2 separate regions of the Homo sapiens genome follow, and region 2 is linked to region 1. Evidence: fine-mapped expression QTL. A gene starts in region 1. The other region holds a variant in brackets. All regions are shown on one strand. Distances are from middle to middle. Region 1 holds the start of NAA50 (N-alpha-acetyltransferase 50, NatE catalytic subunit). Region 2 overlaps NAA50 (N-alpha-acetyltransferase 50, NatE catalytic subunit).

What was found. PIP is the estimated chance that this variant, and not a neighbour inherited with it, causes the effect.
Region 2: its variant is fine-mapped to the expression of NAA50 in whole blood (TOPMed, PIP above 0.99).

What each region holds. Positions count from the first base shown.
Region 1 is chr3:113,741,659-113,751,675 of GRCh38, reverse strand. It overlaps NAA50 (N-alpha-acetyltransferase 50, NatE catalytic subunit), which reads left to right and starts at 5,427. Exons shown (of 5, transcript NM_025146.4): 1 at 5,427-5,734. The coding sequence starts at 5,727. ATP6V1A (ATPase H+ transporting V1 subunit A) reads right to left here and starts at 4,641. Exons shown (of 15, transcript NM_001690.4): 1 at 4,563-4,641. RefSeq lists enhancers at 4,684-5,053, 4,375-5,110, 5,111-5,846, 6,094-6,243, 5,847-6,583 and a silencer at 5,404-5,523.
Region 2 is chr3:113,717,949-113,727,965 of GRCh38, reverse strand. NAA50 (N-alpha-acetyltransferase 50, NatE catalytic subunit) reads left to right here. Exons shown (of 5, transcript NM_025146.4): 2 at 3,871-4,007; 3 at 4,425-4,544; 4 at 4,994-5,060; 5 at 6,029-10,017. The coding sequence ends at 6,206. Among named protein-coding and RNA genes, the nearest start is that of NAA50, 23 kb to the left of the region's middle. The variant A/G (reference allele first, on the strand shown) is at 4,510.

The DNA of each region.
Region 1 (10,017 bases):
ATACTAAATATAAATGAATACACTTATAAAAACCAAAGTCGCTATCATTTCACCATAGGGAAAAAAGAGAATAGCAAAACTAATATTCTCTTCAGAAATTATATGGAAAACATTTTTATTGCTCACATTTCATTTATTTAAAATAAAGTTACTTAGTATAAAGAATAAATTCATTCCTAAATCAATAAATCCATTTGTTATAATAGACAATCAACATTAAGGAAAAGTCAATAAACTTAATAAAATCTTTCCTTAAGACAAATGAGTAATTTTTTTTTTCAGGAATAAAGTGATTCATAAACTCATGATAGCTATACTTACTGTTTAATTTGCTGATATTTTCCATTGCAAAACTACTAACCCTTGTGAATCATGAATTTAAGAAGGGAAGAATTTTACTCTAGTTTATGTCTCCATTATGTTCTCTACATTTCTTTGTCTATTTCATATAAGGATAAAAATAAGATATAAAAACACTTAATTTTTTTAAAAAGACAAAATTTTTAAGCTTATAAGCATTAACTCAAAAGTCCCTGCTCTACAATCTGTACAATTTTAATATACTTCTATAATCCATTGCAGGAATAAAAACTTCAAAATTGAAGAACTGCCTCCTTAAATTTATTCCATACATTAATGATTACAAGCTTTGGAAAATCTTTATATAGAAAATATTAAGACACTGCAGTTGCCCAAATAAGGGACTTTATCTTGATATTTTTCAGATAAAATTAATAAATCTGTTTTAGAATCTTTGCTACAAGTACACTTTTCTTGTTCCCCCATTTTTTGGGTAATAGCTTCTTTTCAAATTCTACTCTCTTCTTCATGCCCCAAACCTGCTGCTCACAGGGACATCAGTCAATTCTGTGGGTTGTCTTAAGTCTTTAGAAATTCAGTATATAAAATCAAAGTAGTTATCAGTAAAATTAATTAAAAATTTTTTTTACAAAATATGTTCTAGGCATTTTACATTCATGATCTAACTTAATAGCACCATCTATAGATTTAAACGTGAGAAAACTTAACCTTACTTAAGTACACTGTCCAAAGTCACACAGTTATTAAGTGGTAGGGCCAGAACTTCAACTAGGTCTCTATGACTGGGAAATCAATTCATGTAAAGTCTGAGCTACACTGCTTTACCATTTTACACACCACTTAGTTTTTTTTGTTTTTGTTTTTGTTTTTTTTGAGATGGAGTCTCACTCTGTTGCCCAGGCTGGAGCGCAGTGGTGTGATCTTGGCTCACTGCAACCTCCACCTGTCGGGTTCAAGTGATTCTCCTGCCTCAGCCTCCTGAGTAGCTGGCACTACAGGCGCGTGCCGCCATGCCTGGCTAATTTTTTTAATTTTTTTAAGTAAAGACAGGGTTTCACCGTGTTAGCCAGGATGGTCTCGATCTCCTGACGTTGTGATCTGCCCGCCTTGGCCTCCCAAAGCACTGGGATTACAGACACCACTTAGTTTTTAAGATATTTTCACATAGATTACCTAGGGTTTATGTCATAGGAAGGTTCCTAAGTATCAAACCTGAACCCCTCCCCAGCATTACGTAAAAGGACATATAACTAAAGTGGCAGAGCTGAATGAAGATCCTCTGACTTTTAGTCTAGTGCTAGTCCACTTATAGATCACGCAGAGCCACTTTTTCATTTAGTACGATTCATTCCTCTTCCCTTCTCTCCCATATTTTGATGATAACCATACTTATTAGTAAACAAACATGCTGTGAAAATAAGTTGGTCTCAGCATTAATAAAGTCCATCTGAGGTTTTTATCTATTGTATTGACCATGAATTTGGAAGGTTATTACCAGTTTATATTTAAAAGCTAACATTTAGTGCACAACTTTAGGAAGAGCTATGATCTGCAAAAATTAAAGTGGTTTAATTTCTTTGTCTAATTGCCCAACATTCATTCAATAAATAATTTATTGAGTACCTATCAGGTACTTCAGTATTCTGGTGCTGAAGACACAATAGTATTATAGTTCACAGTCCTGAGAGCTTTATGATTTGCTGAGGAAGAGCCCAGGGAACAGGAATTAAATACAATGCTAGAAGTGCAAGTAGAAGAATAGAAAAGATGATGATGATGATTAGTAGTAGTCTATAGGACTGAGTGGCTACCTCTGCCCATGGGGAAGAAAGCATTCTTAGTGGTGGCAAAAATCTATAAAGGCACTGAAAACAAGAACTCAGGAAAAGAAAACCAGAAGTGCCAAGGGCCCTAAAATAAAACCAAACCCTTATGCTTTATTTAATAGTGGACTATAGCACAATTCCCTAATAAATGTTAAGATTTCTACATGTAACACTCATAAACTGATAAGGCTAGTCTCAGAAATGTTTTCCAGGCTTCCAATCGTGTGTGTGTGTGTGTGTGTGTGTGTGTGTGTGTGTGTGTGTGATCTGTGTATAATGTCAAAGCTTTTTTTCACATTTAACCTTACTAGCAATGTAATCACCAATTCCCACTACTAATCTACATTTCATCAGTGGTCTAAGTTATTGCTTTCACGAGTTCCCTAAAACTGGGGGAATTGTGAAGTAAAACTGCAGACTCATCCAACCACTTTCATACTGACATTTTCCCCTCTAGTAGTCAATGCTTCTAGCTGGTTTTCTCTTTCACATTTTGGTCTCAGCCAGACAGGACTAGTTAGGACTTCCAGACCACATAAGGAATTCTCCTTACGTGGTGCAATGTCACCTGGTCACTGAAGTAACACTTCCTTTTTTTCTTCCCCTCTCCTCTAGAGATCAAGGAACCTTATTATGGAGAAAATTAATGGATAAAACTACATATATATATCTACAGCAGGCATGATGACATAAATATATCAATACATTAGTCTATTGTCCAGTATGGGTCGTAAGTACGAAATGCTAAAATGGTAAATCCACAAGAGATAGTAGTAATCTTCATTACTTGGGGAAAGCAACATCTCCGAGGTTATGTTTTCTACTAAGGAGCATCAATAAGCTAGGTTATGTATTTTGCACTTACTATAAAAATACTTTGTTAAACTGCTGCTATTGTAGAATTTTAACTTTTTATTCTCCTTAACAAAATAAGACCGTTTATTGTATAGAATTTGGAAGACACAGAAAAACAAAAATAAATCAGTCACATCCACCAAAGATGATTCCATCTTCCTCATTTTCCAGCAGTCTTCTTTAATTACCTTAGTTAGAAAACTACAAGATTTAACTGAGCATATAATTTTTCATATTAAGAAAGGTGTAATTTAAATTTTAAAAATCAAATTTGTAATATTCGTAAGACCTTCAATTGAAAAGCAGCATGGAATTTTCTGAGTTTGCAGTATAAATAAAAGAGTTTAACCACAAACTGAAAAACATTCTTCCCTAAAGCACATTGTTTGGGATCAAAACATTGGTAATAATACATTATGGACGGAATGGGAGTACTTGGGTTGGACAACACCTGTATTTTCAATTGGACAACAATTTCTGTATTTTCACAAAATACTATTCATCAAAATCTGAAGAGGGCACCGGGAGTTTTACAAATGGGGAAAGCTAAAGAGGGATACAAATGCTACTTAACCTAAATTTACCACAAAGCCGATCAAGGAATAGATTGGGAGTGCCAATTCAGTAGTATTTTAGGGGAAAATGACAAAAAGGGAAGGATTGACGGCAGAAAACATGTGCAGACAGCAACATCTCGACTTGATTCTACCTTTAAGCATATGGCCAAATCAATTTGGTTTAACTATTTCCAACCCAATCAGTTTCTTATTTCGGTTTCAGGGAACCCTACTCACTCTTCCCTAAACCAGCCTGGGCCTCCTGCACACCACAACACCACAATACCATCTTTCAACGCCTCCTCATTCAATCGAGACTGTCGCATTACTAACACCTCCTGTTTTGAAGACAGTATTCCTTCAACTGTCCTCTCTGCAGAGAAGAAAAAGTAAAAGCCCTTCTTTTACTTTTCTAGTCCCATCCGAAGCACGTGAACATCTACGGAACCTTCCCTGCAGGTATGTCAGATAAAATCCTTAGAATCACTGAGAAAGCACATTCGGAGGGAAGCTTCACAGTGACTCTGCAGTGAGGGCCGTATCAGTGACAGTCCCTCCCAAGCCTGTCTCACCGGAGACGCCTCTGCCTCCAGGGTTTTTGCTACCTCCCCGCTCCTCAGCCCTGAGCTGAGGGTAAGGACAGTGAGGACCTTTGCCAAAGAATGGGCTTTAAGGAATGGGACCTAATGTCTACTGCAGACCCTGTGAAATGGCTGAAACAATCTGCTACCCGAAGCCCCAAAGGCTCTGAGTAGGGAACCATAATGGCCGCACTCACTTCCAACCCTGGGAAAGGTGGACATCTGAATCCCCAAGTAGCGGGAACGACCACACTTGGGGGAGCGGGGGTTAAGGAGAAATGAGCTCCTTGCCGGTGCAGGGTGACAGCGGGGAGGAAGCCTCAGGCAGAAAAGTCGCCGTTCACACTCTCCCTTCTCTCCTTCCTCTGCCTCCTTCCACCCCCTCTATCCCCACCACTCGCCAGTTACCGGTCGCCGCTCACCTGCTGGGGCGCGAGGTGCAGAGACTGTACCGACCGAGGACCCAGAGGCTGTCACCACGGAGGGGAAGTCCTCAGCTGCACAGGTTGGGGGGGGGGGGGGGGGCGGGCCCAACCAGTCACATGACGTCGAGCTCCGCCCTGCCTCCTCCATCCCAGCGCTCTACATCTCGGGGGGCCTGAATTTTTACGGATCCCTTGAATATTAATTTTCTTGGATTAAAGAAATAAAAGATAAATTTTCACAAAGAGTATGTTATAAAGTACAATGTGGAAAATGTGGACAGCAAGAGTTAAAGCGCATTGCTAAGGAAGTGACGTTCACGCCACAATCGAGGGACAGGAAATGGCGGTGGCGTTCCGTCCCTCTGGAGTCCGCCGGTAAAATTCCAGGCTCTGAGGTTTGGGCCAATCACGTGATCTTAAAACTTGAGGCGTGCTGGAGGGTAGCCAATCTATCTGGCCGATTGTTAACTACGTTTGTTTTAAAACACCTAACTTAAACTTGAGCTTTCCACAGATTTCTTTACATTTAGAAGAACTAACTTTATAAAACCCTACTAGGAGGCAACAGCGTTTGAAGGTCACTCTGGAGACCACAAACTGGGAAGAACGGGGCTGAGAAAAACTATCTTGCGGATATGGGACAAGAGAGGGAGGGGTGGAAAAATCTGGATTTTACCGCCAGGGCCTACCGAGCCAGCCCCACAAGCAGTGTCGTAAGCGGGTGGGAGGGAGGAGCATGACCCCAGAAGGCCCAGTCCAGGAGAAAGATGGAGGTTCCGGAGTGGAGGGGGCAGGGTGCGCGGAGGCGAGCAGTGCGGCTGCGCGTGAGGCGGCGGCGCGCCGGCGCGCGAGGGGCGGGGTGAAAGGTCACAGCGCGGCAGCGGGTCTGGCTGGCGGCAGCGGCGGGAGGGAGCCGAGAGACCCGAGTGCACGTGTGGAGAAGCGGCGGCACAAGCGCGGCGGCGGGAGACACTCCCGCCCCCACCAGACTCAAGCCCTCACTCGACTCTCGCGGCCTTCGTTGCTCGCACAGCTCCCTGCCCAGGCTAGGAGGCCGGCTTGCGGGGTTGAGTGGCCCGAGCTAAGGGTGCGGAGACCTAAGGGCGGCGACTACGACGGCGTTGATATCGGTGGTAACGACGGCCTCAGCAGGCGGGGAAGATGAAAGGGTGAGGAAGGGCAGCCGGGCAGGGCCCGGCCGGTGGGGTAGAAGGGTCCGGGCCCATGTAGAGGGGGAGAGCCGCAAAGGCGAGGAGAGATTCAGGGCGAAGACGGGCGGAGGGAGATTTCTCTGCTTCTCAGTTCCCTCGGCTCCCGGAGGGGGCGGAGGCGAGGCTCGGGCTGTTGGCGGGCTGAAGGGCCAGCGGAGGCAAGACCCGGGGGGCTTCAGGGTTTCGGTTCGGAGACGAGTGTGGGTTGTTGAGTGGGGAGAAGCGACCGAGTGGGGCAACATGGAAAGGCTATTGTGAAGCGCCCGGGGCCTCCTTCCCGGGAGCGGACCGCTGAGCCACGCCGGCCCGCAGCTCCAGGTGGAGTGGTTTGGTTGTCTTCCACCTCCAGACTCAACTCTGGAACTGCGGTGTTTGACACCTTTCAGTTTAATTCACGCTTGGGAGCTGTGCAGAACCTTCTGGAGGAAGAAGAAATTGGAATAAAGAGCACGGGGATGAGTATTAAGAGCTAGTGACTCAACTAGATTTGGGTTGGGTCACAGCGAGTGGAGGAGGGGGAGAGAGCGCGATCACTGTAGACTTGGGGTGCCAACATATTTAAGGAAGTATAGGGTGGATCAGTAGGTGGAGCTGTTGCTTCAGTAGTTCACTATTGCCCCTGAGTGCTGAGGCGGTCCTGGGTAGTTCTACCACGCTGCTCCTTTCAGGTGATTGGCAAAGTTAATGTTCGGTCTTTCACCGTTTGCCTCTTACGTAAAATTAGGAATTATTTTGGATCGACTGGTTAAGTTTTTATGAAATGTCTCCTTACCATTAAGTTGTATAGTTTTAATGTATTAATTACGTAACATTTTTCCGAAGCATTGTCTCAAGCCGTTTTGGAGCTTGTCTTTACCCTCAAAGAGATGAAGCTCATAAACGTTAAAAAGCTCTCTGCGATGCCATAGTTTGTTGTTGTAAGTCGATTAAGAAGTCGTAACTATGTTTTAAGTTAACGAAGTCATTCCAACTATTCAATAGCACTTTTGAGGATGAAATAAAAGTCACTTTCAACGTAATCTCATACTGCCCCAAACAAGGACCTAAATATTACCTCTGTGTATCGGTATTTGAGGTTCCTGAAGAGATTCCAAGAAAGTTTAATTTGGTCTTAGGTCTGTAACATGTTTCCTTACTTTAATTTTCCTTTAAATACTGGATATTTATTCTAATGTTGAATTGTATGTTTTGTACTAATAATCTTTAAAGTTTAAGAACCATGAACTATTCACAGTACCTGCATTGTTTCACATCAAGTTGTAAAGAGTTCCAGTTAGGGAAATATAATTGACGGGTATAGGAAGTATTTGCTCCACTTGAATCATGATCTTGGAAGTTTGGCTATTTCAGATACAATCCAACATATTTGGAGAATGTTGTTTTTCTGCTATACTGCACTCCTTTTGTTTTGTTCTTTTCATTTTTTTTTTTTTAATGAGGCAGGGTCTGGCTCTGTTGCCCAGGCTGGAGTGCAGTGGCGCTATCTCGGCCCACTGCAACCTTTGCCTCCCCAGCTCAAGCAATCCTCCCGCCTCAGCCTTCCGAGTCGGTGGGACCTCAGGCGCGCACCACCACGCCTTGCTAATTTTTTGTATATTTTGTAGAGACGGGGGTCTGACTATGTTGGCCAGGCTGGTCTCAAACTCCTGAGCTCAAGCGATCCACCCACCTCTGCCTCCCAAAGTGCTGGGATTACAGGTGTGAGCCACTGAACGCGGCATATACTGCACTTCTTGAACATGGTTGCTGACTCTTACTCATTTTTGTACTCATTGTCAGGCACTCAGTACTTGTTTGTCATGTTCTGTTAAGTAAGAAAAATGAGGCTGAAGAGTTCCCAGTGTTGAAATTGCCATGGATTTACGAAGGGGTTGCCAGGAAATTATTCTGTATGTTTAGATCCAAAATCTTCAATCTAGTTCAGTCTCCATAGGCTGTGATGTTCTTTCTGATACATAACTTGGCGATAGAAATGAAGCTGAACAGTCATATTATTCACAATCTACCTTGAATTAATATATTCATGGAGCAATTATCTCTGTTTAAAATGGGTATTTACATGTAACCTGATGAAGGCAGATCCCTAGAAATAACTGGCCGAATTTAGAGGAAACTTACAACTATTGAATCTGTACCTTTATGCCAGTAACTATGCCAGTGAAGTTCCTATTACTTCTTATGATTGGGAGCTTAGAATTGTGTTCTTTACTGTAAACCTTTAAGATGATTTCACAGGAATAATCCCTTTAACTTAACAAATGAACTAACTCCCAGATGAGATGAAACTTTTTAATTTTTTTTGCTTCTAAGTCTGTATTTAAGACACTCAACAAATGAGTTGTGTGAATCTTACTTGTGCTTGTTCGGATACTGAACCTACAACAGTATAGGTTTAAAATAAGTTAAGCGCCTTGAGTTCCAAAACTTGTACCACAGTGCACAGTGTGGTCGATTTTAAAGTCCTGACTCTTAATTTGGAATGGCCTGTAAAAACGAAACAGTGGTCCTGGTTATGTGGCTTTTGTATGAAATTTTATTTGCTAAGTATTCTATTGTATATTGAGGTAAGTAAACAGTAAATTGAAATATCTAAAATTGGAAACTGCGGAAGTCCCAACACGAAGCCAGTCAAATATTTAAAATTGTACACTGTTGCCTATGTTGCCTATCATATTGAAACTTAAAACTTAGCTGGTTTTTCTTCATATTTTTACCATGAGTATTTTTATTAGTAGTAGCAGTAGGACTTTCCATTGTATTGGCATGTCTTTCCTCCATAGAAGATAAATTTCCGGTTATTAACTACTGAATGTAATTTATATGCACATGTAGAAGTTTGAGATATACTAGGAAATGTTGCTTACTTTTGAGGTTGGCTGTTTTTATGAACCAGGGACATTGTAGTTTGAATTTGTGGGTGATATTTTTATCTGTTCTTCTCTAGGGAAGGCGATTTCAAGCAAGAAGGTATGCCACAGATAACCATGACTGAGGTGGCAATGTAATTAGGCAGTGTAATGGAAAGTATAATAAAACCAAATCATTTAGCCTTCAATTGTAGTAAAGAGGTGCAAATTAGTTCTAATAAAAAATGTCTTTAACAAAATGTGAATACGTGACTAAGATGGGAAAGTAGGTAGCAGTAATATAAATATGGAACAATGTTGACTACTAATTGGAATAGTAAAGGGAGCCATTTTACCAAATAAAATTAAAATGTAAGATTCTGCAGTCAGAAACAAAACTTTAAAAACTCCGAACAGTGGTTACCTCTGACAGCATATGGACTGGGAAGGGGCAAAAGGAATGCTTTTTGCATCTCAGCATAGTGAGACCTTGTCTCTACAAACAATAAAGCAGCCAGGAGAATCACCTGAACCTGGCAGGTGGAGGTTGTAGTGAGCTGAGATCGTGCCACTGCATTCCTGCCTGGGCGACAGAGTGAGACTCTGTCTCAAAAAAAAAAAAAAAAAAGCCAGGCATGCTGGTGCAAGTCTGTAGTTCCAGCTACTTGGGAGGCTGAGGCAGGAGGATCACTTGAGCCCAGGAGTTCAAGGCTGCAGAGAGCCATGATCTTGTCACTATATTTCAGCCTGGGCAACAGAGCGAAAACTGGTCTTAAAAAACAAAACAAAACAAAACTTTTTTTAAAGGTTTATTGCTGTTTTGTTTTTCAGCAAAACCAAAAGCTAGTCAGGCTGACGTAGCATTTGACACCTTTTATAAACCTACAGTTTATACTTCTTCCTTCTGTGAAACAATTTGTGGTTTGTTGATTGAGATAGTGAATTTTAACAAATACTTTGTAATGTGCCCTTGCTGTGTTGAGATGAATTCATATAAAATATAACCTTACACCATAAGTTTTTTTAAAAAATCAATGTACTGTTCTCTCTAATATAAAAGAAAAATAAAAGGGAAGTAATTTATAATAAAATTTATTTCAGTATTTAATGATGTGGCACAACTATGCCATAAAGCATAAGATCAAGTGTTTGCATCTATCTGTAAATAGAATCATCGTGTAATTTAGAAAGTATGTCTGCTGCCTATACAGTTGTGTGCATTGTTGACTCATGTTGTGTTGCCATTAGTGGTGTAATTTCTTCCTGAAATTGCAGACAACTCTTAGGAAAGCTCTAAACAAAGAATAATCAATACTTTCTGAGTTGGAAAAGATTTTTTAAAGTCACTTAGTAGTCCAAGCACTCATCTTATTGAATCAAGATATATTCCCTGTT
Region 2 (10,017 bases), 24 kb after region 1:
TTCCATTTCAGTCAGACATATCATGTTAATGAGAGTTAAACTATATTTGAAGCTCAGTTTTGCTGACAAGGTTACATTAAGTGAACATTTTGAAATTTTTCTAGCATATTTGTTTCTTGCAAAAATCAAATTAATTTCTCAAAAACAGCTTAATTTTTCCAACAGCTACCAAACAATACTTAAATCTCAAATTTGTTTAAAGCGTGTATATACATATATATAACGCGCATAGAAAAATATTGGAAGACTATCAGCAAACTTATTTCTGGCCATATTATTGCAGGATATTTTCCCTTTCTACGTCATTTCTATGGTGTGCTTTAAAAAAAAAAAAGGCATGTATTTTTTTAATTAGTTAGGGGAAGATTAAGCTGCCTATTTCCTAATGGTTCAATATTGTTTTCTCTATTTAGGCTTTATCTGGCCACCCTAATGGAAACTTTTTTTAGTAGTTAACTTTTATTAGACTCATTGTAGCACAGTGCACTATAACCACTTTTTCTTCTTGTATGAAGTCAAGAAATACCTGGTATTATTCTTTGAAAACTGTAAGTATGCTTGAAGCCTAGTTACTACCTACAAATGATTCCTAAAGTTTTAAAAACCTCAAGTTCTTTCATTTATACTTTAGAAGCTTGACTTTGTAGGTTCTTAAGTTACTATTATTGTTGATACTTCAACTTCATAATGTAATTTTAAATCACTTTTTAAATACTAAGACTTTTTTTTAAATGAGATGCTCTAAATTAATACAAACTGTATATAAAAAAATTACTACACCCAACTTGTGGCACTATGGTAAGTTAAACAGGAGACAGTGTAGGTAAGATGTGATCCCTGTCAGCTACTGCATTTTTAAAGGATCCTATATTTTGGCCAGGCACAGTGGCTCACGCCTGTAGGCCCAGCACTTTGGTAGGCCAAGGTGGGCGGATCACTTGAGCTCAGGAACTGTAGACCAGCCTGGGCAACATGGTGAAACCCTGTCTCTACAAAAAATTCAAAAATCAGCTGGGCGTGGTGGCATGTGCCTTCCTCAGCTACTCGTTAGGCTGAGGTGGGAAGATCACTTGAGCCTGAGAAGCGGAGGCTGCTGTGACCTGTAATTATGCCTGGGCAACAGAGCAACCCTGTCTCAAAAAAAGAAAAATAAAGGATTCTATAGTTTACAGGATAACAGTATCCACAGATTTTTCTTTCTTTCTTTCTTTTTTTTTTTTTTGAGGCGGAGTCTTGCTCTCTCGCCCAGGCTGGAGTACAGTGGTGCGATCTTGGCTCACTGCAACCTCTGCCTCCTGGGTTCCAGTGATTCTTCTGCCTCAGCCTCCCGGGTAGCTGTGACTACAGGCACGTGCCACCACACCGGGCTAATTTTTGTATTTTTAGTAGAGACAGAGTTTCACCATATTGGCCAGGCTGGTCTCAAACTCTTGACCTTATGATCTGCCCACCTTGGCCTCCCAATTTTTTTTTTTTTTTATGTGAATGGTAGATAGTGGGGAAAGTGAGCCCAGTAGATTTTAGTCAGAAAAGTGTTATGAAGAGGGGGAGTTCTGTGAATGAGATGTAATCTACTTAAAGAAAACATGAATTTCATACAGGGAATTCATTATAGTTGTCAAATACTTGGGATGAGAAAAGACTATACTTAAGTGACTAGAAGTTGGAAGAGACTATAACAAGAAAATGTCTATTTTTTTATTTTTACTTTTTTAAACTTCCTATGGTGCTGAGGGGTTTTTTAAATATATAAATCTCTTACCCTTTTACTAACATGTTTGTTTATTTAATCTGTGTGGTTGCTAAGAAACTATGTTCAGATTTTAGGAAGACATACAAGACATGAAAAGATCATTGGTTGCAACAAATAATACAGATTAGTGGTATAAAAAATAATCAAGGCAGGAAGGATAAAGTTCCAAATGAGCTAAGCCTTTCAAAACTGCTAAGTATGACAGAAACGATGCTTTATGCTGTCTTTTGTGTTCTTCATACAGACTACTTAAATAGGGGGTAAAAGTCTCTTGTTTTTGCCTCTAACTCCTTACCAAGTAGAATGTTCTCCAAACTGGGCATTATAGAGTAATACATCTTAGAGAACTTTGTACTATAAGATAAAATATTACATCATATTCCTCTCCAGATAAATCAAATTTAGAAATTTCTTTTTTTATCTGTAATTATTGCTGTTTTTTGTTTTGTTTTTGAGACAGTCTGTCACCCAGGCTGGAATGCAATGGTACACAATCATAGCTTACTGCAGCCTCGACCTTCCAGGCTCAAGCAGTCCTCTCACTTCAGCCTTCTAAGTAGCTGGGACCATAGGTGCACGCCACCACACCTGGTTAAGTTTTTTTAAAAAAATTTCTTACAAAGTTTTGCTATATGCCCAGGTTGGTCTTGAACTCCAGGGCTCAAAGGATCCTCTCACCCCGGTCTCCCAAAGTGCTGGGATTACAGGCCTTCATGCCCAGCTGTTTTTTTTTGTTTCTGTTTTTGTTTTTTTGCATTTTAATCTAAATTTTAACATTTCAAAATACAGTTTTTAAAATTACAATTTCTACTACAAATTAAAATCCTTTCAAGCATGTTTTTGTATATGTTAACAAAAGTCCGTTGTTAAATATAGTTGAAATGTGCTTTTTCTCTACAAAACACAATATGCTACAACATCTTTTTGGGCAAATAATACGGATGGAGCAAAAAAATTGTAGAATGCTGTCAGGTTTGCCTTATCACATTTGATCCACCTTTAACAGTATTGAAGTTCACTTCAGCTATTAAAAATTCTTTGTTTACAGCTCTGCAGGCAGAATACCTTTGATACTTTGTTAGAAATTGGAACTGAAAATTTTTCGCTTTAATCTTTTCCATGGACCCAATTGTTTTGATTACAAGTGGTTTCTTAGGAATGCTCCTTTTATTAGTCCTTTCTCATGCTGCTAATAAAGACATACCCGAGACTGGGTAATTTATAAAGGAAAGAGGTTTAATTGACTCACAGTTGCGCAGGGATAGGGAGGTCTCAGGAAACCTATAAACATGGTGGAAGGGGAAGCAAACACATCATTCTTCACATGGTGGCAGGAAGGAGAAATGAGAGCGAAGTGAAGGAAAGCCTCCTTATAAAACCATCAGATCTTGTGAGAACTCACTATCACGAGAACAGCATGAGGGCAACCGCCCCCATGATTCGCCGGGTCCCTCTCACAACATGGGAATTATGGGAACTACAAGATGAAATTTGGATGGGGACACAGCCAAACCATATCACTCCTGTTGCTTTCTTAATGGATAGTTTTCATCCTGGGGTGATTTTCAAGATGGTGGATTCCTTTGTTTCGTTTCCAGCAACTCTGGTTCTGAAAATGGGGTATGTGTATCCAGGAATGTGAATTTTGCATATCACCTCTGTGACTCTGATGTAGGTAGTTCATAGACCACGGTTTTCATGAATAGAATGTGCATGGTATTGCATACCTCCATTGTTTTCTTAGAATAAATTACTAGAAGTAATAAGATACTTGGGCAAAGGAACTGTAATTTTACCAGAAATAGGTGTATCTAAATTTTTCTGAACTATGAACTACAAGGAAAATTTTGACACTTGCAGAATGTTATTCTGGCCTTTGTAGTAGTCGTTGTGTACCATATTTGTCCCTGAATGTATGTAATTATATGAAAGCTATGAGTAGAATTTGTATTGAATGACTGTCAAAATTTGCTTATAAATGATAATTTGCTTATAAATCAACTCTGAAAGAGTTGGATTTATCAATCATGTAAAAAAGACTTGGTACCCCTTTCATATGTTCATATTAACAAATGGGGCTAATTATGTTTTATTGAGTACATTTTGATTTGTTCCAGTAGCCGGATCGAGCTGGGAGATGTGACACCACACAATATTAAACAGTTGAAAAGATTGAATCAGGTCATCTTTCCAGTCAGCTACAATGACAAGTTCTACAAGGATGTGCTGGAGGTTGGCGAGCTAGCAAAACTTGGTATAATATAGTTTTTTTTTTGTCCTCCCTTCTTTTCTTTCTTTTTGTTCTTGAACCCTAGTTTTTTATAGAGCAGAAGAAGTTAACTAATTTAGTTTGTTTATTTTATAAGTGAGGAAATGGGAGTGGTCTAGGTTGTGAGAAAAATCTCAGAGAAATCAGTTGAATAAAACAGTTGAATTTTAAAAAGAAATGCTTAGTGTTCTTAGTGTATACCTGTGTGTTTTCACTTTAAGCTATACTCTAGAGGAGGCTTAAACTTCCTAAGATGGCATAAGAGCTTTGAGATCATTGATATTCATGAAATAGTTGATGAAATTTAATGTTGATAGGAACAGTGTAGTCCTTTAAAAGGGAAAAAGATTAAATGTGTTATTCTGTCTGTTCAACATTATATCTTTATGTTTTCCTTGGCAGCCTATTTCAATGATATTGCTGTAGGTGCAGTATGCTGTAGGGTGGATCATTCACAGAATCAGAAGAGACTTTACATCATGACACT[A/G]GGATGTCTGGCACCTTACCGAAGGCTAGGAATAGGTAAAAAATTGTGGTTTTTTTACTTCTTCAGAGAAGCATAAACATATTATTTGTTAATGTGTCTGACCTAGTAAGTTAATTTGGGTCTTTTTAAGGAATACTGAGAAAGGGTTACTGAATTATGTAAAATATGGTGAAAAATAACTAGTGTTTATTAACATAATTCTATTGGAAGCCCTACATAGATTTGCTGTTTACGTCCCCTTCTGCTTTTTCTGTTTTTCTTCTACCCGGAAGTGCTTGTTTAAAAAGGTTAGTCTTCTGCTAACAGTTTTAAACATACGTAGCTATTGTAGAGAGAGAACACAACTTTGGAAAATAAGGATATCTAGTGTATACCTCATAAATTCTTTTAGGACTCAATAAGTAGTTCAGATGGCAAGTGGATAGATACATAATTTAAAGGTTGATTTATGAAGTCACGTGTTTGTTATTTATTTTATTAACAGGAACTAAAATGTTAAATCATGTCTTAAACATCTGTGAAAAAGATGGTACTTTTGACAACATTTATCTGTAAGTAAAATAATATTTAATGTTCTTATCAAAGGGGTTTAATTGGCAGGAGAAATCTTTACTAGAAACTTTAAAATCTGGTCACTTATTGTGCCTTTGGAAACACTGTGGAAGTAGTTGTTACAAAGTATTCGAGTAGTTGTTAGTTTTGTTTAGTTTTGTTTTATTAATAATAGTAGATTAGGAACCTGAGATAGAACACATTGCTTTATTATATTAGGATGAGAGCACCAAAGTCACAGGGATGAAATCAGGATTAAAACTCAGGCCTTCAGAATTCAAGACTATTAATACTACTTTTCTCATGCAAAACCTTGTGTGTTTTGTTCAAGGCTATGTTGATAGCTTTGAACATTGTAGTAGATCATTTGTAGTAGAGTTTAATAATCAAAATCAGAGATTACCTAGCTGAGATTGTACTTGAATCTCAAGAGGCTGTAGATAAAGAGTTATGACTAAGATCACAGTCATGGATGTTCATAATTTAGTTTGGCCATGTGAGAGATTGAATTATACAGTGTTATTTTGGGAGTAATTGAGAAAGCTTGCGTTTTTAATTTTTAAAACATACCATGTATTTTATCAATCAGAAGGAAGATATATCTTCAAGCTTTGAGACCCTAGTTTTTTATTTTTCATCATTTTTTTTCTGTGTGTTAATAGGGCCTTTTAATAATTTATCCTCTTACAGTGAAAAAATTTTGATAGCTGTGGTACTTTTCCCTTTGTTGACTACAAGAATAAACACTGAGCCTTCTAATCTCAGCCAGCTGTCTTACAAATGTAAAAATTAGATTAAAAGTGTAAAATTGTCATCAAAAGGTTTTAGGTAAGCATGCCTAACCCTTGTTGATTACTGGTAGTTGTAAAGAGAATGTAACAGATGTTTGGAGCTATCTGTGGAGAATGCTTAAAACTTGATGAAACCTTAATTTTAATTTTTTTTCTGATACTCTCTTATATCTCAGGCATGTCCAGATCAGCAATGAGTCGGCAATTGACTTCTACAGGAAGTTTGGCTTTGAGATTATTGAGACAAAGAAGAACTACTATAAGAGGATAGAGCCCGCAGATGCTCATGTGCTGCAGAAAAACCTCAAAGTTCCTTCTGGTCAGAATGCAGATGTGCAAAAGACAGACAACTGAACAAATTACAAATGAACTTTCTTGCACTTGCTTGTCGCCAAATAAAAGAGAGGCCCATTGATTCCTCCCCCACCCCAACACTTTTCTTTTAAAGCTTTTCTCCCTCCTTGTTCTTGTTTTTCTTTCTTCCTTTCCTTTTCTCTGAGAGTTTTAATACTTTCAAGGACTTTAAAAAAATAATCATGTTTGAATTGTTTTCTCTTATTTTTGTGAGGTGGTTTGAAGGAAGGACAAGGTAGATCTGTTTAGTTTTGCAGTTGAAGTTAGATGGTCCTAAACATTTAATTGTCAAATAATTTCAAATTTAATGTCCTGCTTTCACATTGAAGGGCAGAGCCTACAAAACATTGTATATTTCAAAAGACAAAAAGAAGCAGCAGCAGTATCTTGTTCTCTAATTCATAGACAAGTTGAGTGTGTTTGTGGTACTTTGGGTTTTTAAACACTTTGGGATACTAATCCCTAGACATTGCCTTCACTCCACCTTTAGTCCTTCTGAGCACTCTCTCGGGAGTTGGAACATTGTTATCCTTGTAAGAAATACTAAGCTTATGTTGATTTTTAAGTAATTATATCTTCTCTTCTTGCTGGTGGGTGGGGCAGTTTGGTTTAGTGTTATACTTTGGTCTAAGTATTTGAGTTAAACTGCTTTTTTGCTAATGAGTGGGCTGGTTGTTAGCAGGTTTGTTTTTCCTGCTGTTGATTGTTACTAGTGGCATTAACTTTTAGAATTTGGGCTGGTGAGATTAATTTTTTTTAATATCCCAGCTAGAGATATGGCCTTTAACTGACCTAAAGAGGTGTGTTGTGATTTAATTTTTTCCCGTTCCTTTTTCTTCAGTAAACCCAACAATAGTCTAACCTTAAAAATTGAGTTGATGTCCTTATAGGTCACTACCCCTAAATAAACCTGAAGCAGGTGTTTTCTCTTGGACATACTAAAAAATACCTAAAAGGAAGCTTAGATGGGCTGTGACACAAAAAATTCAATTACTGTCATCTAATGCCAGCTGTTAAAAGTGTGGCCACTGAGCATTTGATTTTATAGGAAAAAATAGTATTTTTGAGAATAACATAGCTGTGCTATTGCACATCTGTTGGAGGACATCCCAGATTTGCTTATACTCAGTGCCTGTGATATTGAGTTTAAGGATTTGAGGCAGGGGTAATTATTAAACATATTGCTTCTATTCTTGGAAAAATAGAAGTGTAAAATGTTAATAATACAAATGTCACTGTGACCTCCTCCACTGAGAGGACTGGTTTATGCCAGATCATTTTCCGGCACACACGGAGTGGCTTTGACAGATTGATAACTTTGTAAGATGGGAGACATCTGAAATATTCATGTTTTCCTTTTGTAGTCCCATCTCCACTATTTAGAAATGTTCTCAGACTTTAAAATAATGCACAGGGCTTGAGCTTTCTGTCATTTGACTTTAAAAGGAAGTTTCATTCATATTTATCCTCTTATGTAAAATTGCGGTATAAAGTCTCATTTCCAAATATGTTAAATGACAAAATTATTTTATAAAATGTTTATGCACACTTTATAACCTTAAGTTTTTATTTGAGAATGTGAAAGTACAAAGTGCAGTAGACTTCAACAATCTTGAGTGCCAAGAATAATACAGAAAAAGAAGACAGTTGATGAATGAGTTTATAGGGTTCTAATCTTAAGATGGTAAAAATGTAGAAAGACCTTGCTGGTTTTTTGGGGGTATTCGTTTCTTAAACAATCCAAATCTAAGCTTAGAAGAAAAGTTTAGCGTTAAGCACCTTTATCTTCATGAATAAGCTTCAGCTTGCTCTTGGCAAGAGAAGAGTGCTTGAGTTACAGAAGGCATAAGTAGTTTGAAGAATGCAGCAGCCTTTTTGTAAACTTCCCAGATATCAAAATAGACTTTGATATATAAATGGTTTTCTGAGATGACACTGCCTCTATTTCTATAACCATTTCACCTGGACTATCTAATCAGTCCTATGAATGTATCCCTAAATGTGGTTATTGAAAACCTAATAGCTGCCTCATGACAAGTACATGTTATTTAAGGAGGAAAAAATATTAAATTTTGAATTGAGTGTGTAGGCTCCCTATCATTATATATAGAGTTTCTTTTTCCACGGTAGTCAGTGACTTAACCTGAATTGTAAATGTTTGTAAAGGGTTAATTGTCCTACATCAAACTTAGTTAAATAATTCCATCCACTTATGGAGGAGGAGGAGAATGTGGAAGAGGTAAAAAGCTGGGCACAAGTTCATATGCCTATGAGTCAGTAAAGACTGAAGTAATGTCCTATGTTGAGCTGGTTATTTTGATATATGATAATAATTATCTTTGAAGTAGAACAATTCTGTTAACTGGAAAATCACAGGATATATCCATCATATTTTTCAGGACAGATAGTTTTTACTGTGGGGCAAATAGGTTAAAATTACACTATGTTAGTTGCATTTAGGTTTTAAAGCAAAGAATCTGTAGAGAAATCTATGCAATATATAGTTTGTCCAGATTAGCTTTCATTTGGGGAATGAAGTTCTGAAATATCTAAAGCAGTTTACTCATCAATTGAAAAGTCCTCCAAAAAGAGAACTATTGGGAAACCATGGTGTGGTGGTGGAAAAGAAAAGCTCCCTCAGTTTTTTGGAGGGAATAACTTAAAAAAATACTTAAATGGCTAAGTTTACTTGGTGCAGTTAAGAATTAAACTTGTCAATTTTAACATTGCTGTTACATCTGAAATAAACTTATGTGATGTTCTGGTAGTGATCTGTGATATCTGTAAATGTCAAAACTGTATTGTTGAATTCTGCAGCCAGCAACCGTACATACTCATTGTGTAGTGTTTCCCTTACTGCTTTTATTTACTTTCACATTTAAGATCTAATTTTAAAATCATTAAAATAGGCCAAGTGTAATTAAGGCATCCTAATTCAGATCTTCTGTGACTTGCTAGGTACAGTGCCCAATATCTACAATTCAGTTCCAATGAGAGGGAAAAAGTAAGATCCAAGGAACTGTCTTGCTGCTGTATTTTTAATGTAATTATTAGAAATACTTGACACTTTAGGCTGCAATCTAGTTAGTAATGTTTATTGGCTACAGACAACATATTCAGGTGTTTTGTTTTTCTTCCTTGTAAGGAAGGAGTACGGTAGTTCAATGAGTTGGGAATTGGCTTTTAAGCTTTTTATCAAACATGAATTTAAGATTTTTTCTTTAACAGAATTCAGTATTTAATATTTCTAGTCAAAATTGTTATAATTAGATTTTTGCTTTTTTCATTTAAGAAGCAATGAGTGATCCTTGTCTAGTGTGTCTCAGTTATTACTGTAGTTTAAAACAACAAACAAGTATTACCTTCCACAGTTCTGGATCAGGAATCTAGGAGCTGCTTAACTGGGTGGTTCTGTCTTGAGATCTCAGAAGGTTGCAGTCAAGCTGTTAGCCAGGACTGTACCATCTTGAAGCTTGACAAGGCTAGAGGAGCCATTTCCAAGATGTCTTGCTTACGTGGCTCTTGGGCTTCTGTTCCTCACTGTGTGGGTATCACACACAGTGCCTGATGCTCACGTGGCTCTTGGGCTTCAGTTCCTTGGGCACCAGTTGCCTGGTGGACAACTGGTATGTGGCTTCCCCTAGAGCAGGTGATATAAGAAAGTGAGCAGAAACCATACTTTTTTATGACGTAGCCTCAGGTGACATTATTTCTGCCATATTCCATGAGTCACACAGACCAACCATTGAATCAGCTTGGTATAGTGTGGGAGGGGACTGCACAAGGATGTGAATACTGGGAGGTGGATATC